Regions from separate parts of the Homo sapiens genome. Here all the other regions are linked to region 3. The links come from fine-mapping of genetic effects on gene expression. A gene starts in region 3. Each other region holds a variant in brackets. All regions are shown on one strand. Distances are from middle to middle.

Evidence for each region.
Region 1: its variant is fine-mapped to the expression of PLIN4 in whole blood (TOPMed, PIP above 0.99).
Region 2: its variant is fine-mapped to the expression of PLIN4 in whole blood (TOPMed, PIP 0.90).

What each region holds. Positions count from the first base shown.
Region 1 is chr19:4,535,467-4,545,923 of GRCh38, reverse strand. LRG1 (leucine rich alpha-2-glycoprotein 1) reads left to right here and starts at 5,888. Exons shown (of 2, transcript NM_052972.3): 1 at 5,888-5,942; 2 at 6,973-9,522. The coding sequence starts at 5,911. The coding sequence ends at 7,984. SEMA6B (semaphorin 6B) reads left to right here. Exons shown (of 17, transcript NM_032108.4): 17 at 1,395-3,331. The coding sequence ends at 2,323. The variant G/C (reference allele first, on the strand shown) is at 6,620.
Region 2 is chr19:4,368,237-4,378,693 of GRCh38, reverse strand. The region is part of intron 1 of SH3GL1 (SH3 domain containing GRB2 like 1, endophilin A2); the gene reads left to right. Among named protein-coding and RNA genes, the nearest start is that of SH3GL1, 27 kb to the left of the region's middle. RefSeq lists enhancers at 2,637-2,826, 2,628-2,922, 2,648-2,942, 2,907-3,016, 2,592-3,325 and 9 more and a silencer at 3,128-3,422. The variant G/A (reference allele first, on the strand shown) is at 4,276.
Region 3 is chr19:4,514,467-4,524,226 of GRCh38, reverse strand. PLIN4 (perilipin 4) reads left to right here and starts at 5,741. Exons shown (of 8, transcript NM_001367868.2): 1 at 5,741-5,842; 2 at 5,938-6,005; 3 at 6,529-6,673; 4 at 7,549-7,610. The coding sequence starts at 5,955. PLIN5 (perilipin 5) reads left to right here. Exons shown (of 8, transcript NM_001013706.3): 8 at 142-1,696. The coding sequence ends at 699.

The DNA.
Region 1 (10,457 bases), 21 kb before region 3:
GGCGGGCGCCTGTAGTCCCAGCTACTCGGGAGGCTGAGGCAGGAGAATGGCGTGAATCCGGGAGGCAGAGCCTGCAGTGAGCCAAGATCACGCCACTGCACTCCAGCCTGGACGACAGAGCAAGACTCCGTCTCAAAAAAAGAAAAGAAAGGCATGGGGTGGTCTCATCTCATTTATTGGGGAGGGAGATAGGGGAAGAACAGAGACACCAAGAAACAGGCAGGCTTTGGCAAGGACGAAGAGACAACAGAAGGCAGACAGACCAACTTCAACAGGACAGAAGGGGCCAGGCGCGGCAGCTCCTGCCTATAATCCCAGCATTTTGAGAGGCCAAGACAGGACGATCACTTGAGGTCAGGAGTTTGAGACCAGCCTGGGGAATATAGTGAAACCCTGTCTCTAAAACAAAAACCCAAAAATAATCCAGACGTGGCAGTGCATGCCTGTAGTTCCAGCTACTTGGGAGGCTGAGGCGGGAGGATCGCTTGAGCCCAGGGAGGTGGAGGCTGCAATGAGCTGTGATCAGGCCACTGTACTCCAGCTTGGGCAACAGAGTGAGAACATGTCTTTTTTTTTTTTTTTTGAGACAGAGTCTTGCTCTGTCACCCAGGCTGGAGTGCAGTAGTGTGATCTCAGCTCACTGCAACCTCCACCTCCCGGGTTCAATTGATTCTCCTGCCTCAGCCTCCCAAGTAGCTGAGATTACAGGCGCACACCACCATGTCCGGCTAAAATTTGTATTTTTAGTAGAGATGGGTTTCACTTGTTGGCCAGGCTGGTCTCAAACTTCTGACCTCAGGTGATCTCCTGCCTCAGCCTCACAAAATGCTAGGATTATGGGTGTGAGCCATCATGCCTGGCCCAGATCCTGTCTTTAATAAAACAAACAGGTAGCTGGAGGCAGGGTTGCAGTGAGCTTTACCACTGCACTCTAGCCTGGGGGACTGTCTCAAAACAAACAAACAAAAAAAATTAAAAAATAATAAAAATAAGGCCAGTCGTGGTGGCTTATGCCTGTAATCCCAGCACTTTGGGAGGCAGAGGTGGGCGGATCACAAGGTCAGGAGTTCAGACCAGCCTGGCCAACGTGGTGAAACCCCATCCTACTAAAAATACAAAAATTAGCCGGGCGTGGTGGTGGGCACCTGTGGTCCCAGCTACTCGGGAGGCTGAGGCAGGAGAATCACTTGAACATGGGAGGCGGAGGTTGCAGTGAATCGAGATCGCCCCACTGCACTCCAGCCTGGCACACAAAGGAAGACTCCTTCTCAAAAAATAAATAAATAAAAAAAAATAAAAATAATAAAAAAGAGGACAGAGGGCCCCGAGGAGGTAGGAGGGATGCCCAGGGCCACCCCGCCGGCCCCACTAACCCCCCTGTGCTCCCCGGCCAGGACTCCTGCGGGCCAGCCTCTCCGAGGACCGCGCGGGGCTGGTGTCGGTGAACCTGCTGGTAACGTCGTCGGTGGCGGCCTTCGTGGTGGGAGCCGTGGTGTCCGGCTTCAGCGTGGGCTGGTTCGTGGGCCTCCGTGAGCGGCGGGAGCTGGCCCGGCGCAAGGACAAGGAGGCCATCCTGGCGCACGGGGCGGGCGAGGCGGTGCTGAGCGTCAGCCGCCTGGGCGAGCGCAGGGCGCAGGGTCCCGGGGGCCGGGGCGGAGGCGGTGGCGGTGGCGCCGGGGTTCCCCCGGAGGCCCTGCTGGCGCCCCTGATGCAGAACGGCTGGGCCAAGGCCACGCTGCTGCAGGGCGGGCCCCACGACCTGGACTCGGGGCTGCTGCCCACGCCCGAGCAGACGCCGCTGCCGCAGAAGCGCCTGCCCACTCCGCACCCGCACCCCCACGCCCTGGGCCCCCGCGCCTGGGACCACGGCCACCCCCTGCTCCCGGCCTCCGCTTCATCCTCCCTCCTGCTGCTGGCGCCCGCCCGGGCCCCCGAGCAGCCCCCCGCGCCTGGGGAGCCGACCCCCGACGGCCGCCTCTATGCTGCCCGGCCCGGCCGCGCCTCCCACGGCGACTTCCCGCTCACCCCCCACGCCAGCCCGGACCGCCGGCGGGTGGTGTCCGCGCCCACGGGCCCCTTGGACCCAGCCTCAGCCGCCGATGGCCTCCCGCGGCCCTGGAGCCCGCCCCCGACGGGCAGCCTGAGGAGGCCACTGGGCCCCCACGCCCCTCCGGCCGCCACCCTGCGCCGCACCCACACGTTCAACAGCGGCGAGGCCCGGCCTGGGGACCGCCACCGCGGCTGCCACGCCCGGCCGGGCACAGACTTGGCCCACCTCCTCCCCTATGGGGGGGCGGACAGGACTGCGCCCCCCGTGCCCTAGGCCGGGGGCCCCCCGATGCCTTGGCAGTGCCAGCCACGGGAACCAGGAGCGAGAGACGGTGCCAGAACGCCGGGGCCCGGGGCAACTCCGAGTGGGTGCTCAAGTCCCCCCCGCGACCCACCCGCGGAGTGGGGGGCCCCCTCCGCCACAAGGAAGCACAACCAGCTCGCCCTCCCCCTACCCGGGGCCGCAGGACGCTGAGACGGTTTGGGGGTGGGTGGGCGGGAGGACTTTGCTATGGATTTGAGGTTGACCTTATGCGCGTAGGTTTTGGTTTTTTTTGCAGTTTTGGTTTCTTTTGCGGTTTTCTAACCAATTGCACAACTCCGTTCTCGGGGTGGCGGCAGGCAGGGGAGGCTTGGACGCCGGTGGGGAATGGGGGGCCACAGCTGCAGACCTAAGCCCTCCCCCACCCCTGGAAAGGTCCCTCCCCAACCCAGGCCCCTGGCGTGTGTGGGTGTGCGTGCGTGTGCGTGCCGTGTTCGTGTGCAAGGGGCCGGGGAGGTGGGCGTGTGTGTGCGTGCCAGCGAAGGCTGCTGTGGGCGTGTGTGTCAAGTGGGCCACGCGTGCAGGGTGTGTGTCCACGAGCGACGATCGTGGTGGCCCCAGCGGCCTGGGCGTTGGCTGAGCCGACGCTGGGGCTTCCAGAAGGCCCGGGGGTCTCCGAGGTGCCGGTTAGGAGTTTGAACCCCCCCCACTCTGCAGAGGGAAGCGGGGACAATGCCGGGGTTTCAGGCAGGAGACACGAGGAGGGCCTGCCCGGAAGTCACATCGGCAGCAGCTGTCTAAAGGGCTTGGGGGCCTGGGGGGCGGCGAAGGTGGGTGGGGCCCCTCTGTAAATACGGCCCCAGGGTGGTGAGAGAGTCCCATGCCACCCGTCCCCTTGTGACCTCCCCCCTCTGACCTCCAGCTGACCATGCATGCCACGTGGCTGGCTGGGTCCTCTGCCCTCTCTGGAGTTTGCCTCCCCCAGCCCCCTCCCCATCAATAAAACTCTGTTTACAACCACCGGCCCCCATGACTCTGGCTCTGCTCTGCCTCCTGGGGGTGGCACGGGTGGGGGCACCCTCAAAAGTCAAGGCCAGGCCGGGCGCGGTGGCTCACGCCTGTAATCCCGGCACTTTGGGAGGCCGAGGTGTGCAGATCACTTGAGGTCAAGAGTTCGAGACTAGCCTGGCCAACATGGCAAAACCCCGTCTCTACTAAAAATACAAAAAATCAGCCAGGCTTGGTGGCGGGTTCCTGTAATTCCAGCTACTCGGCCGACTGAGGCAGAAGAATAGCTTGAATCTGAGAGTCAGAGGTTGCAGTGAGCTGAGATCACACCACTGCACTACAGCCTGGGTGACAGAGCGAGACGCTGTCTCAAAAAAAAAAAAAAAAAAAAGGCTGGGTCAAAACAAATCTGGGGAGCTGAGTGTGGAAACATGGAGACTTCGGGGTCCCCATCTTCATCTGCATAGGAGCCAGTTTCTTTTTCTTTTTCTTTTTCTTTTTTTGAGACAGAGTCTCACTTTGTCACCCAGGCTGGAGTATAGTGGCGCGATCTCGGCTCACTGCAACCTATGCCTCCTGGGTGCAAGCAATTCTCCTGTCTCAGCCTCTCCAGTAGCTGGGACTACAGGCACCCGCCACCACGCCCCGCTAATTTTTGTATTTTTAGTACAGACGGGGTTTCATCATATTGGTCAGGCTGGTCTCGAACTCCTGAACTCAGGTGATCCGCTTGCCTCGGCCTCCCAAAATGCTGGGATTACAGGCGTGAGCCACTGCGCCTGGCCAGCCTTATGAATTTTGTTTTAAGTGGGACAAGAAGCCATCAGAGAGTTTTAAGCAGGGATGTGATCTCATTTCATTTTAATGGATCGTTTTGTTACTGTGTCACTACATTTCACAAGCCTTCCTTCCTCTCAGTCCATGTTGATTAAGACCAACTAACGGCTGGGCTCCGGAGACTGGGCAGGGCACAAGACTGACGGAGTGCAGTGGCTCACGTCTATAACCCCAGCACTTTGAGAGACTGAGAAGATTCCTTGAGCCCAGGAGTTTGAGACCAGCCTAGGTAACATACAAAAGAATTTTTTAAATTAGCCAGGCATGGTAGCATGTGCCTGTATTCCCAGCTACTCGGGAGGCTGAGGCAGGAGAATCGTTTGAACCCAGGAGGTGGAGCTTGCAGTGAGCCGAAATTGCATCACTGCACTCCAGCATGGGTGGCAGAGGGAGACTCCATCTCAAAAAAAATTAGCCAGGCATGGTGGCACGTGCCCGTAGTCCCAGCTACTTGGGAGGCCTTGGACCCATGGTCAAAGCTACAGTTAGCTATGATTGCACCACACTGCTCCAAGCTGGGTAACAGAGCAAAATGCTGTCTCAAAAAAAAAAAAAAATGACGGGGCATGGTGGCTCACACCTGTAATTTTAGCAGTTTAGGAGGCCGAGGCCAGTGGATCACATGAGCTCAGGAGTTCAAGACCAGCCTGGGCCACATGGCAAAATCCTGTCTCTATTAAAAATATAAAAATTAACCAGGCACGCTGGTGCATGCCTGTAGTCCCAGCTACTCGGGAGGCTGAGGTGGGAGAATGGCGTGAACCCGGGAGGCGGAGCTTGCAGTGAGTGGAGATCACGCCACTGCACTCCAGCCTAGGCAACAGTGCAAGACTCTGTCTCAAAAAAAAAAAGAAAAAAAAAATAGTCATAGCTGCAGATAAAGGTGACACCATCATACCTAAATATTTAGAACTCAACAAGAATGCAAGCACTCTGCAGCCAAGTCCATGAGATGCAGCCAAAGCTGTTCTCAAAGGGAAATTTGTAGCCTCCAAACGCATTTAATAGGAAATGAGGAAGAATGGAAACAATAGCATGGATGTCAGATTCAGATGAAGAGAAAAAAGGGCAGAAGGAGCCCTTGGAGATTTGAGTTCAGCTTCATAGATGGGGAAACTGAGGCCAAGAAAAGTTAAGTCACTTGCCAAAGGTCACAAAGCAAAGGTGTTCATGACAGAGCTGGAATTCAGAACCAGGTTTGGTTCCTCCCAAGCCACTGTCTAAGGACCGTAGAGACGTTTGGCATTACTCACTATTGGACTGTATTTTTAAAATGACTTCTTTTAAAAAAAGCAATATCAACATACCATGAAATCAAGACGAGTTTTTTTGTTCTTTTCAGTGAGCTTCTGGGTTGCTCAAGTTTATGGTAAATCCCTCCTCTTGCTCAGAGAGCTGTCCCTGTCTCCAGGAATAGTGCCTTGCAAACCTTGACCCTTGAACTCCGGGTTGGGGGAAGTGAGGATGCAACTAGAGAGACTCTTGGATGCCCCCCAAAAATCAGGAAGCAAGGAAAGAAAAACCTGTGTTCTAGAAGCAGGGTCAAAAAGGGGTTGAACAGGAAACAATTTCCAGGAAGCAATTTTGTAATCCTGACCCCTCCCCTTCCCCTGCCTGGCTTAGGCTCAGCCCCTATCAGGAACTGGACGGGGGTGGGGACTTCCCCAGGGTTGGTTCCCCTGCCCCCAGTCCAGGCAGGTATAAGGCCACCTCCGCAGGCCAGGACAACCCAGAAGCAAAAGAGCAGAGCTACCATGTCCTCTTGGAGCAGACAGCGACCAAAAAGGTAGGTCCCCACACTACCTGTCCTAGGCAGGTTTGAACGCCAGACCATGCGGAGATACAGGACATTCCAGCTAACCCATAGAAGTCACAGGGAGCAGATACAGGCCTGGTGGCTGGCACAGATCAACCTTATCTGTGACAGAAAGACTGGCGCGTGCACACACACACACACCCCTACAGAAGCCCAGGTGGGCATGGGCAGCAGGGAGCCGGGGGAGGCTTCTTGTTAGAGGCCTGGGGCCACAGTGACCAAGGCTGTCGAGATCATGTCTGATGGCTGCCGGGCCAGGGAAGCCCTGGAGGAGGAGGGGAAGCCCCAGGCTTCCAAGGGTTGTGGTGCTAAGTGTAAACCACCGCTTCCCAAGGCCAAATGCCCACCCTCAGACCTGGCCAAAGCAGGACACACTTTTCATGTTCAGAGGCTGCAGTGAGCTGTGATCATGCCAGTTCCCTCCAGCCTGGGCAACTGAGCAAGACTCTGTCTCAAAAACATGAACCTGAACGTCTGTCTTCCTCCAAGCACCCAATTGGTCAAGAGTGGACAAAAAGACCAGGATCCCAGAGCAGAGAAGTCTTCATGGAAAAGAGGGCATTGGAGCTGGGGCTTTGAAGGATGAATAGGAGTTCACATCAAAACACAGAGCCAGGGAGACAAGGACTGACCCAGAAAATAAGCCA[G/C]ATCAGAAGAAACTAGCAAGTTGGACTGTGAATAATTAACAGCTCATGGGGGCTAGGCTGGTGATGGGGAAGTGTATTCATATTATGCGGGAGTTACACTCAGAAACTCAACTTTCCTAGAATTATAATTCTCCCTGGAACAGGGGCCACTTCTGGCAGCTGTCGGGGGTGAGGGTAGAAGCTGGAAGAGGAGGAGGAAGCAACTGCCCTAGTACAGGTGAGAGATGAGGTAGCATAGTCCAGGCTGGTAGCCGCAGAGATGGGAAGAAGTGGGCGGATTTGCTGGTGTATTTTCACCTAGCTGAGTGTATTTTCACTGTGGTTTAGTAAGCATCTTCTGTTACTGCCTGCAGCCCAGGGGGCATTCAACCCCATGTTTCTAGAACTCTGTTCCTGCTGCTGCTGTTGGCAGCCTCAGCCTGGGGGGTCACCCTGAGCCCCAAAGACTGCCAGGTGTTCCGCTCAGACCATGGCAGCTCCATCTCCTGTCAACCACCTGCCGAAATCCCCGGCTACCTGCCAGCCGACACCGTGCACCTGGCCGTGGAATTCTTCAACCTGACCCACCTGCCAGCCAACCTCCTCCAGGGCGCCTCTAAGCTCCAAGAATTGCACCTCTCCAGCAATGGGCTGGAAAGCCTCTCGCCCGAATTCCTGCGGCCAGTGCCGCAGCTGAGGGTGCTGGATCTAACCCGAAACGCCCTGACCGGGCTGCCCCCGGGCCTCTTCCAGGCCTCAGCCACCCTGGACACCCTGGTATTGAAAGAAAACCAGCTGGAGGTCCTGGAGGTCTCGTGGCTACACGGCCTGAAAGCTCTGGGGCATCTGGACCTGTCTGGGAACCGCCTCCGGAAACTGCCCCCCGGGCTGCTGGCCAACTTCACCCTCCTGCGCACCCTTGACCTTGGGGAGAACCAGTTGGAGACCTTGCCACCTGACCTCCTGAGGGGTCCGCTGCAATTAGAACGGCTACATCTAGAAGGCAACAAATTGCAAGTACTGGGAAAAGATCTCCTCTTGCCGCAGCCGGACCTGCGCTACCTCTTCCTGAACGGCAACAAGCTGGCCAGGGTGGCAGCCGGTGCCTTCCAGGGCCTGCGGCAGCTGGACATGCTGGACCTCTCCAATAACTCACTGGCCAGCGTGCCCGAGGGGCTCTGGGCATCCCTAGGGCAGCCAAACTGGGACATGCGGGATGGCTTCGACATCTCCGGCAACCCCTGGATCTGTGACCAGAACCTGAGCGACCTCTATCGTTGGCTTCAGGCCCAAAAAGACAAGATGTTTTCCCAGAATGACACGCGCTGTGCTGGGCCTGAAGCCGTGAAGGGCCAGACGCTCCTGGCAGTGGCCAAGTCCCAGTGAGACCAGGGGCTTGGGTTGAGGGTGGGGGGTCTGGTAGAACACTGCAACCCGCTTAACAAATAATCCTGCCTTTGGCCGGGTGCGGGGGCTCACGCCTGTAATCCCAGCACTTTGGGAGGCCCAGGTGGGCGGATCACGAGGTCAGGAGATCGAGACCATCTTGGCTAACATGGTGAAACCCTGTCTCTACTAAAAATATAAAAAATTAGCCAGGCGTGGTGGTGGGCACCTGTAGTCCCAGCAACTCGGGAGGCTGAGGCAGGAGAATGGCGTGAACTTGGGAGGCGGAGCTTGCGGTGAGCCAAGATCGTGCCACTGCACTCTAGCCTGGGCGACAGAGCAAGACTGTCTCAAAAAAATTAAAATTAAAATTAAAAACAAATAATCCTGCCTTTTACAGGTGAAACTCGGGGCTGTCCATAGCGGCTGGGACCCCGTTTCATCCATCCATGCTTCCTAGAACACACGATGGGCTTTCCTTACCCATGCCCAAGGTGTGCCCTCCGTCTGGAATGCCGTTCCCTGTTTCCCAGATCTCTTGAACTCTGGGTTCTCCCAGCCCCTTGTCCTTCCTTCCAGCTGAGCCCTGGCCACACTGGGGCTGCCTTTCTCTGACTCTGTCTTCCCCAAGTCAGGGGGCTCTCTGAGTGCAGGGTCTGATGCTGAGTCCCACTTAGCTTGGGGTCAGAACCAAGGGGTTTAATAAATAACCCTTGAAAACTGGATCGGATGAATTGGCTTTCATTGTGTTCCTAGCATCTTCTCAAATCAACTTCCCAGGACTCCAGGGTGAAGGAGGAAAAGAGGCATGGCCCAGGCCCTGGGGTGTGGGATATGGTCTCCCTAGGGGATGACAGTTGGGATCAATGGCCTGTGACTTCTCCTCTCCCTTCCCCCATCCTGGGACCTAACTGGAAATAAAACCTTGACTGTTGCCCGGGTGTCATTTTACCAGTGGATTTCTGCCAGGGCTTGTGTCCTAGGAGAAGGTTTAAGTTAAACCAGATTGCCCAGGTCTCCAAACGATTTGTCATGCTGACCTGAGATCATCGAAGGGGGCACCTGCCCCCGGGCAAGGTTGCAGGGGCAGGATGGGGCTGAAGGGATGAGCAGGGTCCCGGGCCCACCTGCTGATACAGCATTGGCCATGTGGGGGCTGCAATCGGATTTGGAAGACCCTGGGGCTTGGGGGCATGTCCAGTTTTCCCAGCTCCCTAAAAAATGACCATGCAGCCTGGCGCCGTGGCTCATGCCTGTAATCCAAACACTTTGGGAGGCTGAGGCAGGCAGATCACCGGAGGTCAGGAGTTCGAGACCAGACTGGCCAACATGGCAAAACCCTGTCTCTACTAAAAATACAAAAATTAGCCAGGCACAGTGGCACGTGCCTGTAATACCAGCTACTTGGGAGGGTCAGGCAGGAGAATCACTTGAACCTGGGAGGCGGAGGTTGCAGTGAGCCAAGATCACGCCACTGCACTCCAGGCTGGGCGACAGAGTGAAACTGTGTCTCAAAAATAAAAATAAAAATAAAAAGACCATGCCTACATCTGTGGTCATTCCAGGCAAGGCAATGAAAAGGCAGGGTTCTGAGGTCCAGCAGGGCTGGGTTTGAATAGGATCCCTGGCCGGGCACGGTGGCTCATGCCTGTAATCCTAGTACTTTGGGAGGCCAAGGCAGGCAAATCACGAGGTCAGGAGTCCAAGACCAGCCTGACGAATATGGTGACACCCCGTCTCTACTAAAAATACAAAAATTAGCTAGGTGTGGTGGCAGGCGCCTGTAATCCCAGCTACTCCGGAGGCCGAGGCAGGAGAATCACTTGAACCCAGGGGGCGGAGGTTGCAGTGTGTCAAGATCGCGCCACTGCACTCCAGCCTGGGCGACAGAGTCAGACTCTGTCTCAAAAAAAAAAAAAGAAAAAAAAGGAATAGGATCCCTCACTTGCTGTGGTATGCGGGGCAAGTGTTTTATGATCTCTGAGCCTCAGCTTGCTCATCTGTGAAATGGGGATCCTAGGGAAAGGGAAGGCCTGGCTTCTGGCTTAGTTAAGGGGCAGATTAAGAAATAAAAAGAGGCTGGGTGCAATGGCTCACACCTGTAATCCCAGCAATTTGGAAGGCTGAGGTGGAAGGATCACTTGGGGCTCAGGGGTTGAAGACAAGCCTGGTCAACACAGGGACATCTCGTCTCTACAAAAAGTTTAAAAAGTTAGCTGGGGGTGGTGGTGTGTGCCTGTGGTCCCAGCTACTTAGGAGACTGAGGCGGGAGGATCACCTCAGCCTGGGAGGGCAAGGCTGCAGTGAGCTATGATCACACCACTGCACTCTAGCCCTGGGCAACCGAGCAAGACCCAGTCTCAAAAATCGATAAATAATAATAATTAATAAGAAAAGTCATCAGCGAGTTGGCCAAGGTCACTCAGCAGGGCTATGGGGGCTGTGATCGCATGGACTGTCTCTATGGCAACAG
Region 2 (10,457 bases), 150 kb after region 3:
GCCCAGGCTGGAGTACAATGGCGCGATCTCAGCTCACCACAACCTCCGCCTCCCGGGTTCAAGCGATTCTGCTGCCTCAGCCTCCCAAGTAGCTGGGATTACAGGCATGCACCACCATGCCCAGCTAATTTTTGTATTTTTAGTAGAGATGGGGTTTCTCCCTGTTGGTCAGGCTGGTCTCAAACTCCTGACCTCAGGTGATCTGCCCGTCTCGGTTTCCCAAAGTGCTGGGATTACAGGTGTGAGCCACCGCACCTGGCCTGGTGGTGTGTAGTTTCTAAAGCACATCCACGCCTGAGATGGTTGAGAAAACCGAGGCTCAGAGGGGTTTGTGTTCCTGCTCAGAGTCACAGCCCCGAACGGCAGAGCTGGAACCACATCCAGTCCCGGTGTCGCCCATCCAGGCACCCTAATCCCACGTCAGCCTGCTTGCCTCGTGGCGTTACGGCACACCTTTGCTCTGATGTGTTACTGGCACACCTGAGCTCCCGAGGGCAGGGCTGCTTCTTATTTATTTGTTATCTCAACAACTAGTATTTATTATCTCACCATATACTCAGTGACTGACGCCACCTGGGTGCCAGGCCCTGTGCTGCCTCTGCCACCCCTGTCCCTGTGCCTGGCCCTGCTGGCAGGAAGCTTGTGTTTGAGGACAGAGAACTTGGGGTGGGTTGGCGACGAGAGCCTGTCCCGAGTGGTGTCCCTCCAAGGACGATGAGCCACAGCGGGGCAGAAGGGGCCCTGGGAAGCAGGCTGCACCCGCCAGAATCTCCCAGGCCCGGGACCCAAACGCGAGTCTTCAGACAGGAGAGGCTGCAGTCTTCTCGCTGCAGGGGAGATGGTGGGGGGACTCGGGCCATTTGCCTGCTTCCTCTGTGCTGAGGCCGTGGTCAGCAATTCTGAGATTCCCAGCCCGGGTTTCCACCACCGACATCACTGTGTAAGGAGCAGGCAGTGCCTCTGAGCGGCCAGGGGCACCCATGCGCCAGAGCCAGTGCACGTGACCTGGCGAGGGGGCAGGAGTGGCCACTGCAAGGTGACAGCTGCTGGCACCTAATGCTCGCAGAGGGCCCCAGTGCACAGGCGCGGCTGGCTGTGCAGAGCTGCTGACCGCCTCTCACCACCCCCTGCCCTGCCCCGTGCCACCCGGGATGACTTCTGGCCTGGGTGCTTTTGGTAGCCACACCTCAGAAAACCTGTCTTCGTGACTGTGGGCCACCATGGGCATGAGTCACCTGTCACCAGAGCCTGGTGTCCCTGTGTAAGTGTGCCAGATAGGCAGAGGAGACAGGTGAAGGCACATTCCTCAGTGCCCGCTCACAGCTCTGCCCACCACGCATTCTGTAGAGAACCTCAGTGCCCTCCTCCCTGCTGGCAGCCAGGCAGGGATTTAGGCGGTTTCTGTTTGGCCTCCAGTGCTTGCCTCTCCCGTGTCCTATCCGCCCAGACCTCAGACCTGTCACTGTTCCCGGGCATCCTCCTGGATAAGAAACTGCCCAAATGTGGTAGCTGGGTCCCCAGGATGTGAGTCAGGCTAGGCCTGCCTAGCTCACGTTTTGTTCTTTGCAAATTTTCCCAACCTTGCAGCTCTCTGGGGAGGGAGCCAGCTCCAGGCTGGGAATGGGCCTGGCGGCCTCCATCAGTGTCAGCCCAGGTGAACCGTCCACGAGCCACAAAAGGGAAGGTGATGGGAGGAGTATCATCTGGCTGCCTTCCGGGTCACTGCGGGGAGTTGCTGCCCCCGGAGCTTAGCTGCTGTCAAGGGGTGGGATGTGGCGAGGACCCCCAAGAGGTTGCCCGGGGTCCTTTATTCTAGGGCGCTAAGCATTGGAGAGTGCTTCCTGTGTCTGAGACGGGACAGCAGGGGACCCGAAAACAAGCAAGCAAGAGGAATGCGAGGCCCCGTGAGGATAGCAGGAGGGTGGGGCAGCCTTGCAGCCATGGGGACATTTGGATGGACAGAGCCCTGGTGGCTAAGACCCAGCATGGGAAGATCCAGGGAGGCTCAGTGAGGGAGAAGGAACAGCGAGAGCAAAAGCTCTGAGGGGAGATGGGGGGGCCGCCCAGGCAGATGGGGGTGTAAGATGAAGTGTGAAGGGGCAGGCGCACGAGAGAGGAGGCATCAGTGGTGTGTTGGGAGAAGGTGAGGAGACCAGTGATGGGGATCAATCAGGAGAGCTTCCTGTGGGAGGAGGCTTCTCTGAGGTCTGAGGTCTGGGCGGATAGGACACGGGAGAGGCAAGCACTGGAGGCCAAACAGAAACCACCTAAATCCCTGCCTGGCTGCCGGCAGGGAGGAGGGCGCTGAGGTTCTCTACAGAATGCACGGTGGGCAGAGCTGTGAGCGGGCGCTGAGGAATGTGCCTTCACCTGTCTCCTCTGCCCACCTGGCACAGCTGCACAGGGACACCAGGCTCTGGTGACAGGTGACTCATGCCCATGGTGGCCCACAGTCACAAAGAAATGGAAGTCCTTCAGAAATGGAAGGGATCTTAGAGATGGTGAAGATGGTTTCTGTGTCTCAGGAAGGGCTCTGGGCTTTCGGGCAAGTCTCCTCAGCTCTCAGGGAGTGAGGGAACTCACGGCCCCTCGTTGAGATCTGTGCACCTGCAGCCTCTCACCGCTGTCACCATGCCCCGCAGTTCTCTCTCCAAGACCATTTCCAGTCTCTTCCTGCAGGGCTATGCATTGCCTCAGCTCCTTTTGAGGAGCTGTTGAGAAAAGATCGTTTTTTAAGAAAGCCTTATCGTTCCTGTGCATGTGGGTGATGTCATCACACTCTGCCCCCTGGACGCAGATCCTCCATGCTGCCCCCAGTGGGAACACCAGCCTGTGCTCAGTGCTGCAGAGCTGGTGTTTCCCTGCCAGGCGGAGCCTCAGGGGATTTATCGCCTCATTTGTTTGTGGGTTGGCTTTTTCCTTTTATAAGTTTTCATCGGAAACTGATTTTACCAGTTGTATGTCACACAGCCCTCCTGCCTGGTCCCCAAGATGAGAAATTACAATGCATGATGCATGAGGCTGATTTTCATGTAGATGTGTTCGCTCGGGCTGGAGCTCTGGGTGTGGTTTGTTCCTGGGAGAGGAGCCCCAGGCACTCACTGGCATCTCCATGTTTGGATGAAACCCTGTGCAAGGGCAAGGGTGGGAGCGTGTGTCCCACATAGCTGAGCCCCCTGGTTGGCAGGCCTGTCCTCCCGTCTCCTGGGAAGGTAGCATGAGCTTCCCACCTGCTCCCAGATTCCTCGCCCAGCCCTGGGGCGTTGCCCCTCCCCTTCCACCTGCCCTGACTGCATTCCAGGCAGAGCCAGGGTTGGTGGGGCCTGCAGTGGGGATCCCTTGACCTTCCTAGCCACTCCTGCTGTCTGGCCTTGGGCCAGGCATGTCTCTCCTAGGCCCTTAGCTGTCCTGTTTATCAAGTGGAGACATCTGCCCAGAGGCGGCAGCTGGGCCAGGTGGGGGCTGGAGGGCCCGGCTGGCTCTGTCCACTCCTCTCGGGGTTGTCCTGGAGCTCTGTGGGGTCAGCCTCGCACCACAGACAGTAGGTCCCAGCTTTCCACAGCAGAGGGCACCCCTTCTCCCCCACGCATGGAGGGGCAGGTGGGTCTCGTAGGTGCCCGAGGGGAGCAGGTCGGGCTCAGTGCTCTGCTGCCTCCTGGGCAGACTGGTAGTGGTGATGGGAGCCCCAGGGCTGCCGGTCATTAGAGCCGAGCCCAGGTCACCGCCCTGCCACCATGTGCTGGGACAGCGTGTGGCCCATGGCTTCTGCCAGACGGGCGGTGAGGGAGCCCCCACCATTGGGCAGCACTGGCCAGCCTAGGCCCCATACGGCCACCAGGCGCAGCCCGCAGCCTCCCCCACACCCATGTGGAGCTGGGCCAGGCAGGGTGCGTCCTCGGCATGCGTTTCCAAGGACTGCTGAGTCACCTCAGGGGTGACTCAGGGGCCCAGGGGCCAGGCCAGAGCCAAGGGGGACAGCAGGGGAGAGGCCGGGCTGCAAGGCCACAGCACGGGAAGGGCAGCATGCGGACCAGAGGCCAAGCCTCTCAATGCAGACGAGGGCCAGGAGGCCAGGGAGGAGGCTGTCCCGGGAGAAACGCCGATTGCCCCATCTAGGGCGGACGGGCCAGGTTCGGGCTGGTGGAGGCCTTCCGGGATGCAGGCCCTGCACAGGGTTCCTTAGGGTTTAAAGTCAGCAGCCAGAGCTGGAGGCCTCATCAGAAAGGCAGTGTGGGCTGGACTCCCGCTGGTGACTTTGCTGTCAGCACAGGAGAG[G/A]TCCTTCTGGCCCTGGGGCTGCCCTCACGGAGCCTCCGGCCACCAGACCATCATAGACCAGGCCTGAATGTCCCCTTTCTCTCTCGGGGATGGTCACAGAGCTGGCCCCTGGCCCCTGGCTGCCACTCTGTTGTGGCCACCGCTGAGCAATTTCCTGTCGTGGCTGTCACCACTTCGTCTGCGTGACTTCTTTCCAGTGGCTGATTCCCTCTCTGCTTCCAGTTCCCCTGATGTGTTGGCCTCAGACTCTTGGATGGGGCCTCCAGGGCCCATCTGGAGGATTTCTCTTGCCTAAGTTTTTTTCTCCCCCTCATTTTCATGTGCTGTGACTTCAAATGACATCGGCTCGCTGCCGCGCACACAACAAAGCATTTATCGCTCTCTGCCAATCTGAGAGTCCTTTCTCCAGCTCCAAGAGCCAGGAGTCAGGCAGGGCAGGGCCCGACAGCCTGAGAGACGGCATGAATGGCCAGCACCACAGTTGGCAGAAACGCACCCCCAAGGCGATTTAGACTGCGGTGGCCGGGCCGCACCATGGCCCCCAATGTCTGGCTGTCTTTCCCTACCATGGCACCCAGCCACACCTCTGGCCAGGAAGTCTGTGGCAGGCCTGTCCCCACAGCCTGGGGGCCGTGGGGAAGCCGGGCTCTCAGGGGGCCCTCTGTGGCCTGGTCTGAGGCAGAGCCCATTCTGGTTCCAGTCCAGAGCCGGTATCTCGGTTGCCAGCCCAGGCCCAAGGGACTGCCCCTTTGGCTGAGAGGACGCCTGGGGCTTCCAGAGCCACTGTCCTTTTGCTGCCAGAGCTTGGTTCCCAGAGGAGCGCCTGACCCGCCACAGAGGTGGGTCTGTGGCTGTCCCCGGGTGCCCAATCTGGCCATGGTGGCAGCGTCTGGTTTGGGGTTTCCGTGAGAAAATAATTTCAGAAACTTTGTCTTGATTCATTGTTTTCAGTGCCTCCGTTCCCAAAGGCTGCTTTTTAAAAACCATTCAGCCTTGATGGACAGGAGGGGAGATCTCTACTGAGAGGCTGGAGGCTCGAAGGACAGTGGCAAATCCAGGGCTCTCAGAACTCCCAGATGCTGAGGGGAGCCCCGGCTGTCGGGACCCTTCCCTCCGTGCATCACACACAGTGGGTGATGACCCAGTCAGCCCCAAGGCAGAGGCTCCCTCCATCTTCCCTTGGGCTGGGGAGTGGGTTTCTGCCGTCTGATTCCTCGCCGCCGGGCCATGAGGATCACCTGGCACCTGTGAGGGTCACTTGGCACCTGTGGTGCTCCTGTGGCCCCCCCTCCCACTGCTCCTCTCCCTCCCCCTCCTGGCCTCATCCCTGAGCATGTGCAGGAATGACTACTCCTGCTTTTCACCTGCGGATGCCCTGCAGGCTCCCAGACCAGGAGCCCAGGGGCCACAACCCCACCCATGCCAGGCACTTACTGTCACAGGAAAGCTCAGAGCTGCCTGCAGCCAGCGCCGCCCCTGTAGATAGGCGAGCTTTCATAGTCAGCACGCAAGGGCCTCAGGTCTGGAGAGTCCCCATGCCACTGGGGCCACTGAAGGTTTCCAGGAAGGACAGACAGACACATCAGCAAGCCAGGAGCCTGGGAGCCCACATGGAAAAGGGGACACGAAGGCCAGTGGCTTCCTGTGTCGCTGGGCAGCAGGCCGCCTCCAGGCTGTGCGCGTCTTCGACTTTTTGACTCATGGGAAAGAAGCTGTGATGGACTCGAGGTGGCCATGTGTGTTGGGCAGTGGCTCCCAGGTGTTGGGCCAGCAGGGAAGGGCGTTGCAGATGGAAAGGGGTTCAGAGACACACGGATATGATACATCCCTACATCCTTTGCCCCTGCCCTCTTCCCACGTCAGGGCTTTTTCTACACCACAGGGATCCTTACGTCCCTCCCTGGGGCCTCCACCCCGACCCTGTATTCCAGCTGTTTTGCACAGAGGTCTGATAAGGACTCTGCTGCTTCTGCAGGCCTTACCCTGGCTTTGCCCCTTTCCATGGCTGACCAGGCCTTGAACACAGCTGCAGTGTTAGAACTGCGCCCACTGTGAGGAGGGGCTGAGCACTCGCCTCCTCCACGTCCCCTTCAGCTTCCTCCTCTGTGACGTTGGGGGCCGGGCACAGAGTGCCTAGCATGGGGGCTGGCACATGGGACTGTGAATAGTGGCCCTTGTTCCGTGTGTCCTGCCTGCCCTGTCCCTGGTCCTGCAGGTGGCTGGGCCTGGACCCCCTCCTATGGTCCCCAGCTCCCCAACCCATGCTTTGTCCTGGGGCTGTTGTCCCCTAGTCCTGTAAATGTATGGCCTTGGCCAGGCACACTGTGTCATGCCTGTAGTTTTGGCACTTGGAAGGCTGAGGTAGGATTGCTTGAGGCCGAGTTTGAGACCAGCCTGGGCAACATAGTGAGACCCCTGCCTCTTTAAAAAGAAAAAAAAAGATGAGGCCTTGTCACAGGTATTCGCTGCGGTTGACCAGCCGTGCCCACCTGCCATTTCTCCGCTCTGTGCCTGGCACTGGGCGAGGCCCCTGTGGTCTGTGCGCTCACAGATTCCGCTGAGGAGGACTGCAGGGAGGGACGCGGAGATGGCTCTGTAGCACAGCGTGCAGCACCACAGCACCACCGATGCCGACGGGCAGGCAGACACCAGCCAGAGACCCGCTCCCCAGCCGAGGGAGGACCCGTGAACTCTGCTGTGAACCTGGAAATTACCAAGCACCACAGCATGACTGCCAGTGAGACCTGAGGACCCTGGGGCCGACCCCTCTGCGGGCAAATGTGGCGCATCCCTGCAGGCTGGGCCACAGCAGCCCTCCCTTGCCCTCCCCCACGCTGGCTTTCTTCTTTAAAAGAGAAAAAAAAACAAAACCCTGTGAATTCATCAGAGCAGATAGTCTGCTGGGGCACCAAGCCCGAGACGGGCATTTGTGTTCCGTGCTGTGTGGATCAGGTTTCCCCGCTGAGATGTTTAAATCCCAAGGCCGCCCATCGGCAGCAGCCAGCTCCACTCGGCAGGATTCGGAATTTTCCTCCTGCTCCTGCCAAGTGGCCACCACAGCTGTGCCTGCCGGGCACAGGGCAGCTGCCCACACCCCTCTGGGTAAAACCTGGGATTCTCCTGCCTACGGTAGCCCTGTCCTGACTCTCAGTCCACAGTGTCTTCACAGTTCATTTCTGTATTTTTCCACCTTGTATTCTCTGTTCTGTGTGTCACATCCCTTGCTCCCCTCCAAAGAGAGCCAAAGGTCTAAACTCTAATGAATGCCAGGCTTCAAAGGAATAGCCCCCTTCTCCCAGGGGGACAAGAGTCCCATGCTCTGGGGCAAAACCCCATCTTCGTGTCCAGCTTGCTCGTTTCCCAGGTGCCTGGCTCACAGGTGACAGAGTACAGGGTCAGGCAGAAAATCCATGCGGCATGCAGGTGGCGGGTGCAGGTGGGATGCGTGAGCATAGAGTGGGCAGGTCTCCGCTGGGCATCTCTGGGCAAAGATCTGAAAGACCACAAGCCAGTCTTGCCAAACCCTGGGGAAGTGTCCGGCAGGCAACAGTGGGATCCTTCCCAGAGGCCACTGCCAGGCCTGACTGAGCCGGGGCCTCTCCCATAGTGACTTCTCAGCCCTGGTCCTCGCCTGGCAGGGTTGGCCAAACCTCACTTCTCCCTGCTCCAGGCGGGGACATGTCACAGCCTCTGTGGGAGGCCAGCCGGCATCTGAAGCAGGGGCAGAGTCTTGGAGACTGTTCCCTCTTGGGCTCGGCCTGTTTGTTCCAGGCATGGGGAGAGAAGGCGCTGGTGTTGCTCTCAGGATGGCAGCCCTTGTGGGGCCTGCGGTTGGTCACTCGGGGTTTGCAGCTGGTACTCTGACCCCGTCCAGGTGGGGCCCTGTGGGAGAGTGGGGAGGGGGCCCCCACCCACCCTGCCACCCTGATGCAGGTTCAGTCAGCGGAGGGTGGTCTCACCCCTGAGCCCTGTTGGGTCCCTGGCTACTGAGTGGCCCCATTATTTTCCTCCGTTTCCTGCCATGCGGGGTGGGAACAGGAGGCGAGCCTTGTGGGTATGGGATGGACTCGAGTGCGGAGCTGTCATTGCCACTGCTGAGTCCGCTGCACTAGTCAGGGCTACAGCCAGCCTGCAGAGTCTCCCTCGGCAGGAATGGACTGCTGGGACCATGGCCTCAGTCCTCCCTCCCCACCGGTAGGGTCTCTGATGCGGGGGCATTGGGGCTGGCTGCCCCACAACAGGCAGCTCTTGCCTGGCAGATGGCACCAGGGTTAGGAACACTCGCTCCTGACAGCGAGCCCAGAGGCGCCCTCTGGTGAGCCTCCCCGTGGCGCCCAGCTCTGCCGCAGACTCTCGGTCCCCTCCGTGCTCAGCAGTGTGCTGGTGTGGAGACCGCAGTGAGTAGGGCCCCAGCGGGCAGGAGCCCACGCTTGGTTTCCGCGCTTGCGGCCGGCGCTGCACGTGGCCCGGCTGCCTTGCTTTTCCCGTGTTTCCCTTGTGGCTGCTCATCCCTGTGTCCATCTGTGCTGGTTTCTAGCCCATAAGCCTTGGAGAGAAGGGGCCTTACAGGGTTGTGTCCCCTGCCCAGTGCCTGGCCCGTGGGGGACCATCAGTCACCACAAGGGACTTGGCTGGAGCTGAGCAGAGGGACCCGGGTAGTTAGGGCACAGCCTCCCGGGTGTCAGGGGTGCGAGGAGTCAGGCGGTTGTGGGGGTTCAGGAAGTCGTCCTGGGGCTCAGGAAGGCAGGGTCCTGGATTCCCAGGTGAGATGGGCAGGTGGGGCCAGGGCCAGAGCCAGAGGCCACCAGGTGGGTCTTTGGTACCGTGGCGGGTCCCCAGCCCCTCCCCTCAGAGGCAGGATGTGGTCCTCGCCGGTAGGGCCTCTCCTCCTGCCCTGTGAGAGGCAGGGGGCTGGGGAAGGGCCCTGACGGAGCCACTCCTGCCAGCCTGCACACTGGGTCCTGCCTGGGCAGGTCGTGGGGCCGGGGTGGCCTCCGCCCAGAAGGTGTGGTTTCGCAGCCCGCTGGCTTCAGTTCTCCTCCCGGCTTCCCAGAAGAGTCCAGTCTCACATCAGCCACTCATTTCCCTCTCCGGCAGCCGCTGGCTCTGAGCACGCCCTCTCTCGCCACAATCAAAAGAAGTGAAACTGTCCCAGGAAATAGAGTGGAACGCCCCAAAAACACCTAGGGAGGGGGGGCTCCTTCCTCCTAATGCCTTCAGCAGAAATGGAGGGCAGCCCCACTCTCCTGCCCCGCAAGGGACAGTTCCTGCTTCTCACCTGTGCCAGAGTCAGCCCTCCCGCGGTGGGTGTGACGAGGTGATTTTTTTTTTCTTTCTTCTTTCTTTTGAGATGGAGTCTTGCTCTGTCGCCTAGGCTGGAGTGCAGTGGCTGGATCTCTGCTGACTGCAAGCTCCACCTCCCGGGTTCACACCATTCTCCTACCTCAGCCTCCCGAGTAGCTGGGACTACAGGCACCCGCCATCAGGCCCGGCTAATTTTTTTGTATTTTTAGTAGAGACGGGGTTTCACTGTGTTAGCCAGGATGGTCTCGATCTCCTGACCTCATGATCCGCCTGCCTCAGCCTCCCAAAGTGCTGGGATTACAGGCATGAGTCACCGCGCCCGGCCAACGAGGGGATTTTTAAGAAGCTTCCAAGGTGCTGTGTGGCTGAGTTGAGAGCCACCAACCCACAGGCAGGAAAGGGACAGGGGTCAGAGGCATGGGGCCTGTGCTCACTGAATGCCCGGCACACCCCGCACATGAAGGCAGGTGGACAGAAAGGGTCCCGATGCGTGGGTGAGGACAGTCCCGTGGTGTGGGGGCTTCCAGAGCCAAGCCTTGGAGGAGGGCCAGGAATTCCTTGGCAAAGGGGCTGGTGTCTTTTTGGGCAGGTTGCCAGGACACAAGACCAGCCGTGTACTCCGGGCAGGCTACCTTTTGCAGAACTTGGGGTTGGGGGCATTTGCACTCATGGTGCCTTGGGCTGTGACCTCCAGGCATGGGCTAGAGGGTACACCAGGTGCCTGGCGTGGGCAGAGCCCCAGGCTCAAGCTTCTCCTGCCCCCGCACTTCCTGCTCTTGGGTCACTTCCTCCCAGGCTGGGTCCTAAACTCCTGACTGCCCTGCTGGACACCCCCCAGCCCCACACAGCCAACGCAGTGTGGCACCACACGGACCCTC
Region 3 (9,760 bases):
ATTCTGTGTCTACAGGGGACAGGACTATGAGGTCTATGAGACAGGTTGACAGCTCCACTGTGGGTCCATCAGAGAAACCGAGGCAGGACAGCAGTCCTCCTGGGCGTCCATAGGGGAAACTGAGGTCCCCGCCCCCTGCAGGCAGAGCTGGAGACGCTGGTGCTGTCCCGCAGCCTGACCCAGGAGCTGCAGGGCACGGTAGAGGCTCTGGAGTCCAGCGTGCGGGGCCTGCCCGCCGGCGCCCAGGAGAAGGTGGCTGAGGTGCGGCGCAGTGTGGATGCCCTGCAGACCGCCTTCGCTGATGCCCGCTGCTTCAGGGACGTGCCAGCGGCCGCGCTGGCCGAGGGCCGGGGTCGCGTGGCCCACGCGCACGCCTGCGTGGACGAGCTGCTGGAGCTGGTGGTGCAGGCCGTGCCGCTGCCCTGGCTGGTGGGACCCTTCGCGCCCATCCTTGTGGAGCGACCCGAGCCCCTGCCCGACCTGGCGGACCTGGTGGACGAGGTCATCGGGGGCCCTGACCCCCGCTGGGCGCACCTGGACTGGCCGGCCCAGCAGAGAGCCTGGGAGGCAGAGCACAGGGACGGGAGTGGGAATGGGGATGGGGACAGGATGGGTGTTGCCGGGGACATCTGCGAGCAGGAACCCGAGACCCCCAGCTGCCCGGTCAAGCACACCCTGATGCCCGAGCTGGACTTCTGACCCATGGGCCAGTGGAGGCGGGGAGGAAAGGCCACCTGCACACCCCGATCCCTGCTGCCCCCTGGTGGCCACACGTAAGCTCGAGGCCTTGGCCTTGACCCTTCTTTGGAATCAGGCCCAACTCCGGATCTCTGACCACCTTTTTGGTATTGGACTCTCCCATTTTTTCCTTGAACACATGGACAAAGAGGCCCGGGGGAGCAGGGCCTCGAACCCTATTCAGGCCAACTTGAGCCACAAGCTGGGTTCTTCACCTATGTCCTGCTCCCTGGCTCCATGAAGCGAATCCAAATCTTTCCAAGAGGCTGGGCACAGTGGCTCACGCCTGTAATCCCAGCACTTTGGGAGTCTGAGGCAGGTGGATCATCTGAAGTCAGGAGTTCGGGATCATCCTGGCCAACATGATGAAACCCTGTCTCTACTTAGAAAGAAAGAAAAAAAAAAAAAAAGCCAGGTGTGGTGGTGTGCACCTGTAGTCCCAGCTAGTTGTGAGGCTGACGCAGAAGAATTGCTTAAACCCGAGAGGCGCGGAGCTTGCAGTGAGCAGAGATCGCGCCACTGCACACCAGCCTGGGTGACAGAGCGAGACTCCATCTAACAAAAAATAATAGTAACAGCCTCCCGAAGAAATACACATTTTGCCCAATGCCTTCTGTTTGGGGCTTTGAAAAGTGAGCCCTGACTGGGTGTGGTGGTTGACACCTGTTATCACAGCACTTTGGGAGGCCAAGGTGGGAGGACTGCTTGAGCCCAGGAGTTGGAGGCTGCAGTGAGCCATGATCTTGCCCCTGCGCTCTCGCCTGGGTGACAGAGCAAGACTCTATCTCAAAAATGTTTTTAAAAAATACTTCCTAGGGAAACACACATTTTGCCCTATTTGGAACTTTGAAAAGTGAGCCCTCCTCTGCCCATGGGCCGTGCTGCTCAGCCTGCCATACTCGCTTGCTTTGCTGTTTGGGATTTGCCTCCAGAATAAAGGTCCTTTTTGTTGTTGAAAGGCCCACGTGTGTGTTCCAGCCAGGGTGAGTCTCAGTCCCAGGGGGCTGGGGGCCACGGAGGTGTGTCACTGCTGAGACATGGAGAAGGGGGTGTGTAGAGCCAGAGTTCAAGATCTAGAAGAATGGTGCTTCTCTGACCTGCCTGTCATCCTGTCTGGGATCCACCGTTACTGCCCAGCCCATGTGGGGTAAGCATTACCACTTAAAATTAGCCGGGCACCATGGCTCATATCGGTAATCCCAGCACTTTGGGAGGCTGAGGTGGGAGGATTTCATGAGCCCGGGAGTTTTGACACCAGCCTGGGCAACATAGGAGACCTTGTCTCTACGAAAAATTTTAAAATGACACATGGTACGAGCCTGTGCCCCAGCTACTCGGGAGGCTGAGGCAGCAGGATCGCTTGAGCCTAGGAAGTTGAGGTTGCAGTGAGCTTGGATCAGTAACCACTCCACTCCAGCCTGGGCAACAGAGTGAGACCCTGTCTCTAAAAATAAACAACAGCATTGCCCCTTTGGCCGCATGGAAGCTGTTCTCATCTTGGTACAGGTGAATTTCATGGAATTGCAGGGAGCAGAAAAGATGGGGAAGGAGTCAGATGGGGCAGCTCTCTCTCTACCTCCTGGTCCTGCAGGAGCTGGTCTTGCTGTGGTCTCTCCAGCTGCACTGGCCAGGATGGGAAGACAGAGGCAGGGCAAGGGCCATAGGCTGGTCTCGGGGGTTTCCTCCTGTCCTCTGACCGCATTCCTGGCTGCTCTTCCGACTCCCCTGGGGCTGGGCGGGGTGTTGGGAAACCACAGCTTGGTATGGTGAGGTCAGGGTGGCCCCTGACTTCCCTGGGACATAGTCCAGAGGGCAGCTCTGGGATCTCCGACCACTTCCACCAGCCAAATCTACCTCCCTGCTCCTGTTCTGGAATCTCCCACAGGTCCCCACTGCCCACAGACCAAACTCTTCACCTTCCAGCTTCCTCCTCCAGCCTGACCTGGATACTTTGCTCTCTTACCATTGAAGTGGGCACATTCCCACCTCCGGGCCTTTGCTGAGGCTGTGCGGCCACCTTGGAATACTCTTCCCACCCCCCATCCGTCCCTCGGACACATCTCATACATCCTCAAGGCCCAGCCTCAATGCCTCCTCCTCCAGGAAGGCTTCCAGGACTCCATCCCAGCCGGATACTTCCCTCCTCCGGTCCTCCACAGGCCACCTTCTCAAGGTTTCTTGCCCTTTCCACCTTGACTTTATAGCCACAGGCAGCCTTGCTCTCTCTTCCCACATGAGGCTGGGGGCTCCTGGCAGGGCCAGGCCTGTTGAGGATGATCAGAACAGCACATAGGGGTAGGCATTTTGGCAGAGGGAACAGCTTAGGGAAAGGCACAGCAGTAGGGAAATCAGTTTCACTGCAGCAGAGGTGAGGAAAAGAGAATGGGTTGAGCTAAGCCCTGGGATTTTTCTTTTCTTTTCTTTTCTTTGGGGGGGTGGGGAAGGAGTCTCACTCTGTCACCCAGGCTGGAGTGCAGTGGCGCGATCTTGGCTCACTGCAACCTCCACCTCCCAGGTTCAAGTGATTCTCCTGCCTCAGCCTCCCGAGTAGCTGGGATTACAGGCGTGCGCCACCACACACAGCTGATTTTTGTATTTTTAGTAGAGATAGGGTTTTGCCATGTTGGCCAGGCTGGTCTCGAACCCTGACCTCAGGTGATCCACCTGCCTCGGCCTCCCAAGATGCTGGGATTACAGGCATGAGTCACCGCGCCTGGCCCATTAATTCATTTAATTTTTATTTAAAGATATATTTTGGGCAGCCGGGCACAGTGGCTCATGCCTGTAACCCCAGCGCTTTGGGAGGCCGAGGCAGGTGGATCACGAGGTCAGGAGATCGAGACCATCCTGCCTAGCACAGTGAAACCCTGTCTCTACTAAAAATACAAAAAATTAGCTGGGTGTGGTGGCGAGTGCCTGTAGTCCCAGCTACTCGGGAGGCTGAGGCAGGAGAATGGCATGAACCCGGGAGGCAGAGCTTGCAGTGAGCCGAGATCGCACCACTGTACTCCAGCCTGGGCGACAGAGCGCGACCCCGCCTCAACAGAAATATATATATATAAAATATATTTTTTTTATTTATTTTTTTTTTTTTTTCTTTTGTTCTTTTGAGGCGGGGTGGCGCTCTGTCGCCCAGGCTGGTCTCAAACTCCTGTGCTCAAGCCAATCCTCCTGCCTCGGTCTCCCTAAATGCTGGGGTTACAGGGTGAGCCATGGCACCTGGCCTGAGGTATATATTTTTTAAAGGGAGAGGAGATCCAGGAATGCCTCTTTGAGGAAGTGATATTTGAGGAAAGACCTGGAAGGAGGTGAGGGATGTGGGAAAGGGTGCTGGAGGCAAAAGCAACAACCCACACGAAAGCCCTGAGGAAGGGTGTGCGGGGCTAAGCAGGCACAGTCACGTGTGTCTTTGAGGGACTCTGTCCTGGCATGTTATGGGAACAGTGAAAAGGCCCGTGTGGCTGGAGCAGAGTGAAGAGAAGAAGGAGAGGAAGGTGGGGAGCAGACGAGGCAGGTTATGCAGGGCCTACCGGGCTGCAGGAAGGGGACTTGGGCTTTGACCCTGGGCTCCCACCCCGGAGAAGGTGGGAGCCATGGAGGGTGCTGGGCAGAGGAGGGGTAGATCCTGGCTGGGATGTTTATGATCACTTTTTAATTTTTTCTCTCCACACACTGGGCTGTGGCTGCCCTTTGGGAAGGGGAGGGGCACCCAGAGCTCTCCCAGCCACCCTTGGGAAGCACTGGCTGGTAGAAGAGGTTGGGGGACACCCCCCCTTCTGTTCCCCCACTGTTTGGCAAACACAGTGTCGGCTCCAAGGAGACAGACGGCCTGGGAATCATCAGATCCTGTGGCTGTACCCTCCCTCCTCCCAGCCCAGTGCCCAGAGCCACCCATGGGGTCTGCCCTCTCACCCCCAATAACACAGGGCTAGGAACCCTGTCTCAGGGGCAGGTAGGAGGGGGACACAGCCCAGGGTGGGCGTTACGGCCATTCCTCTGCCCACCCACCCACAGACAGCCCAGCACATAGGCTGGGCTCAGCACGAAGGTCCTGGGTCTGGGTTTGAATCCCGTCCTCACCACTTCCTGGAACAGGAGGGTCTGGGTTTGAATCCCATCCTCACCACTTCTGGAACAGGACGCCTCCTCCAGGGAGCCTCCCTGGGTTGGCCCAAGCCCCCCAGGCTGGGTTTCCACTCCTAGGGTGCCCCCAGCTTGGCTGGTGCTCCATCTTGGTCTGCGTTTTGGCCCAAGTCCCTTCCGGAGAGTGATGGGCTCCCCTCCACACTGAGGACACCCCCTGCTCCTTGCCGAGACCCCGAGACCCCGCTTCTGCCTGGGTAACGCGAAGGCAGCATTTGTTCAGTGCATGACCTCATCTCACAGAGGCTCACAACCACTCTCTGTGTTGCTCCATTGAGCCAAACGTGTATTAAGCGCCAAATGTATGCCAGGCACTGTTCTGTGGGCGGAAGAGGGTGCCCTGTGGGAACCTGCAGGGAAGGTGTTCCAGGCAGAGGGCACAGCCCGTGCAGAGGCCCTAAGGCAGGACCGTGCCAGGTGCGCTGGAGGCATAGCGAGGAGGCCTGTGTGGCTGGGATGAAGCAAGCGAAGGAGGAAGCTGGGGGAGATGAGAGCAGAGAAGAAGCTGGATGTTACGGGACGTGGTGCGGAGTACGAGAGAGAAACCTGAAGCAAAAAGATGGTAACTGGCCAAGGCATCCTGGTGCAGCAGAGATTTGAACTACACCCACCTCGTGGATGGAACTGGAGGCTCAGGGGCCCGGGAGGGGAGCCCATCTGGCCTGTGAGCCACTCAGCCTGATGCAAGCTGTGGGCAGGAAACAGGGGAAAGGTGCTGGGCCTGGGCCCATGCTGGGCTGGGCAGGTAGCCATGTGACCGTCCAGGCCACCTCCCCCGGGCCCATTGGCCGCCTGCCGCTGCTGGCTGGGCCTGCGCCTGCCCCGGACCCTATAAGGCCAGGGAGCTGAGGGTAGAGCCAGCTGCCAGCCGGGCCGGTCCGTCCTCCAGGGGACCCCGCGCAGTCCAGGTGAGCGGGGCCGCGTCTGCTTCGGTGACACCAGGGTGAGGCCAGGCCTGCAGGTGGGTGTCGGGCTGCTCAGGCTTTCAGTGGGGAGTGGGTGTGGGATGGGAGGCTAGGGAACCCCCATTCACGCACCTTCTCTGCCCCCTTCCAGCTTCTCACGTTCTCACTATGTCTGCTCCAGACGAAGGGAGACGGGATCCCCCCAAACCGAAGGGCAAGGTAAAGAGGGGAAATGGGGCAGATTCTTGCTGGGGCCTGGAGATGCCCCAGAGCCGGGGAAGGTGACCTCCACAGTCCTGGGGTCTCGAATCTGGAGAGGTGCTTCCCTGGTGGGCTGGTGGGGGCGGTCTGGGAGCCATGATGCCAATCCCTTCCTTTCTGACCCAAGCTGGAGGCGGGGGACCCACGCAGACCTCGACACCTTCCCCAGCAAGTGACCTTGGGCCGGCCTCAGCTCCGCCCCTCTCTGAGCCTCAGTTTCCCCATCTGTGCAGTGGGGATCCTGGAAGGAAAAGGTCTTTGGAGATCGGGTAGACGATCTTTTCCTCTGTGCATGGGAGGCAGGCTGAGTCTGCCCATTGCCCAGGTGTGGAAATTGAGGCTGAGTGGCTGAAACACTTTCCTGAGGTCACCCAGGAGCAAGGGGCCGGGGCGGCATTGGGCTGATCAATCGATGCTTCCTCTGACCCGTTCCTGCCGAGGCTTGGCCTGCTCATCCTGCACACCCCCCGCCCCCATGCAGACCCTGGGCAGCTTCTTTGGGTCCCTGCCTGGCTTCAGCTCTGCCCGGAACCTGGTGGCCAACGCACATAGCTCGGCGAGAGCCCGGCCGGCCGCTGACCCCACAGGAGCGCCTGCTGCCGAGGCTGCCCAACCACAGGCTCAGGGTGAGTGGCTGGCCCAGCTGGGGGCGTGGGGGGACTCTACACATGGACCTGGGAGAAGGAGCTCCCCGGGCAGGGACTTCCAGCCATTTGGGGAGTCCTCCATATTTGTCTGTGTGCTCTCATCAGACACTAGGACATCTTGTGGTGGATGGGGAAACTGAGGCATAAATATGGGGGGTGAGTGGCCGAAGGTGGCTTTCAACCCAGCCTGTCTCCCTGCAATGCCCCCCCACTCAGTCCCTCGGCCGTTCCCCCACCCTGCACTCCGTTTCTGATGCACCATGGCCCAGGCTGGGTGCTCTGCCCATCTGAGCTCATCAGAGTGAGATCCAGACTCCCAGGGAGGAGCAACAGCTCCCCTGGGGTCACACAGCCCAGGGGCTCCCCAGCCTCCTGTGGCTCAGCTTGGGCGATCAGGGACGGTGACAGGGAACCCAGGGTTGGGGCAGCCGCCTGAGCTGGGCCTCCCTCTGGGCCCAGAGCCCCAGGCAGCTGACTTCTGCTCCACATGCCTTGGCCTGGCAATAGGCAGCAGGCAGCTGCGGTGGGGGCGGGGCGGGCTGGGCAAGGGGCTGTTCCCCCATGCCAGGCTATATGAACCCCGGGACTCAGGGTGGGTGTCCACCCAGCAGAGGAAGTTCCACAGAGCCCTACTTCAGGGAACAGCGGCCCTGGGCTTGGGGGGAGCCCCCAGCGGGGTTGGGGGGTGACCAGGTCTGGCTGGTAGCCGTGGATGTCACCTCCTGCTGTCCCTGGCGGGGTAGCTGAAACATTCCTGACCTTTTAGGCTGTGCCTGGCTATTGTGCAATGGGCAGCCGGGTAGATGGTTCTAACTGCATCCCTCACTCTCCCTGACCGGCCCCTGTCCCCACAGTGGCTGCCCACCCAGAGCAGACGGCCCCATGGACGGAGAAGGAGCTGCAACCTTCGGAAAAGGTGAGAGGATGTGCAGGGCAGGGTCTGATGTGGCAGGAGCCCTGGGGGTGCCCCCTCCTGCGACATTTCAGTTCCTGCTATCTGGGGGGCTGCTCCCTCCTGGGACATTTCAGTTCCTGCTATCTGGGGGGCTGCTGTGGGCCTGAGGGAAGGCAGACAGCCTGGGGATCCCAGGCGGAGCTTCCCCTCTGAGCCTCTATTTCCACATCTGTGAAATGGGTGCAGTGCTACCCCACTCTAATCACGTAAGGTTCCAGTCTACACAGGGCTGTGCCTGGCAAGATGAGACCAAAGCGACAGCAGCGTAAGCACTTTATTTCTTCTACTTTTATTTTTTGAGATGCAGTTTTGCTGTTTCACCCAGGCTGGAGTGCAGTGGCACAATCTCAGTTCACTGCAACCTCTGCCTCCCAGGTTCAAGCGATTCTCCTGCCTCAACCTCCTGAGTAGCTGGGACTACAAGTGCTCACCGCCATGCCCAGCTAATTTTTGTATTTTTAGTAGATACGGGGTTTCACCATGTTGGTTTCACCAGGCTGGTCTCCAACTCCTGACCTCAAGTGATCCACCCACCTCAGCCTCCCAAAGTGCTGGGATTACAGGCATTAGCCACTGCGCCTGGCAAGAGGATCTGTTTTAATCAGCATTTTCCAGATGAGGATATTAGCTCAGAGAGGGCATGTGGCTTGCCTAAGGCCACACAGCGAGTGTCGGGAGCAGGAGAGGGTAAAAAGCTGGGACTTGAACCTGGGTCTCTCCAACTACAGGGCCCAAGGTGCCCACCTGAGCCAAAGCTGGGAGATGTGTTCTGAGAATACAATTTCCGGGCTTCTCAACCTCAGTACTGTGGATATTTGGGGTTGGATCATTCTCTGGGGTGGGGCCATCCTGGGCACTGCAGGGTGCCGAGCAGCATCCCTGGTCTCCACCTACTCCATGCCAGGAGCCTCCCCAAGTTGTGACAACTACAGATGTCTCCAGACATCACCCAGTGCCCCCTGGGGGCAGAATCACCCAGTTGAAAACTACTGAATTAAAATAGCACCTTGGCCGGGCACGGTGGTTCACACCTGTAATCCCAACACTTTGGGAGGCTGAGGCAGGCAGATCAGTTGAGCTCAGGAGTTTGAGACCAGCCTGGCCAACATGGTGAAACCTCATCTCTACTAAAAATACAAAAATTAGCTGGGCATGGTGGTGCACGCCTGTAATACCAGCTACTCAGGAGGCTGAGGCAGAAAAATTACTGAACCCAGGAGGCGGAGACTGCAGTGAGCCGAGATCTCGCCACTGCACTCCAGTCTGGGTGACAGAGTGAGACTCTGTTTCAAAAAACAAACAAACAAAAAAAGTAGCACCTCACAGGTACACCCGAGAGTTAGAACTCCTAGGCCATCATCATCTTCATTCATTTTTGTGTTTTTTAATTTTTTTTTATCTTTTGAGACAGTCTCGCTCTGTCACCCAGGCTGGAGGGCAATGGCACGATCTCGGCTCACTGCAATCTCTGCCTCCTGGGTTCAAGCGATTCTCCTGCCTCAGCCTCCAGAGTAGCTGGGATTACAGGTGCCTGCCACCATGCCTGGCTAATTTTTGTATTTTTAGTAGAGACAGGGTTTCGCCATGTTGGTCAGGCTGGTCTCGAACTCTTGACCTCAGGTGATCCACCTGCCTCGGCCTCCCAAAGTGCTGGGATTACAGGCGTGAGCCACCGTGCCCGGCCTGTTTTTTTTTTTAAAGATGGGGTCTCACCGTTGCCCAGGCTGCTCTTAAACTCGTGGGCTCAAGCAATCCTCCTGCCTTAGCCACCCATAGTGCTGGGATTATAGGCATGAGCCACTGTGCCCAGCCTGAATATATTATTATTATTATCATTATCATTATTATTTGAGACAGAGTTTCGCTCTTTCACCCAGGCTGGAGTGCAGTGGCGCGATCTCGGCTCACTGCAAGCTCCGCCTTCCCGGGTTCATGCCATTCTCCTGCCTCAGCCTCCCGAGTAGCTGGGACTACAGGCGCCCACCACCACACCCGGCTAATTTTTTGTATTTTTTTAGTAGAGACAGGGTTTCACTGTGTTAGCCAGGATGGTCTCGATCTCCTGACCTCGTGATCTGCCCGCCTCGGCCTCCCAAAGTGCTGGGATTACA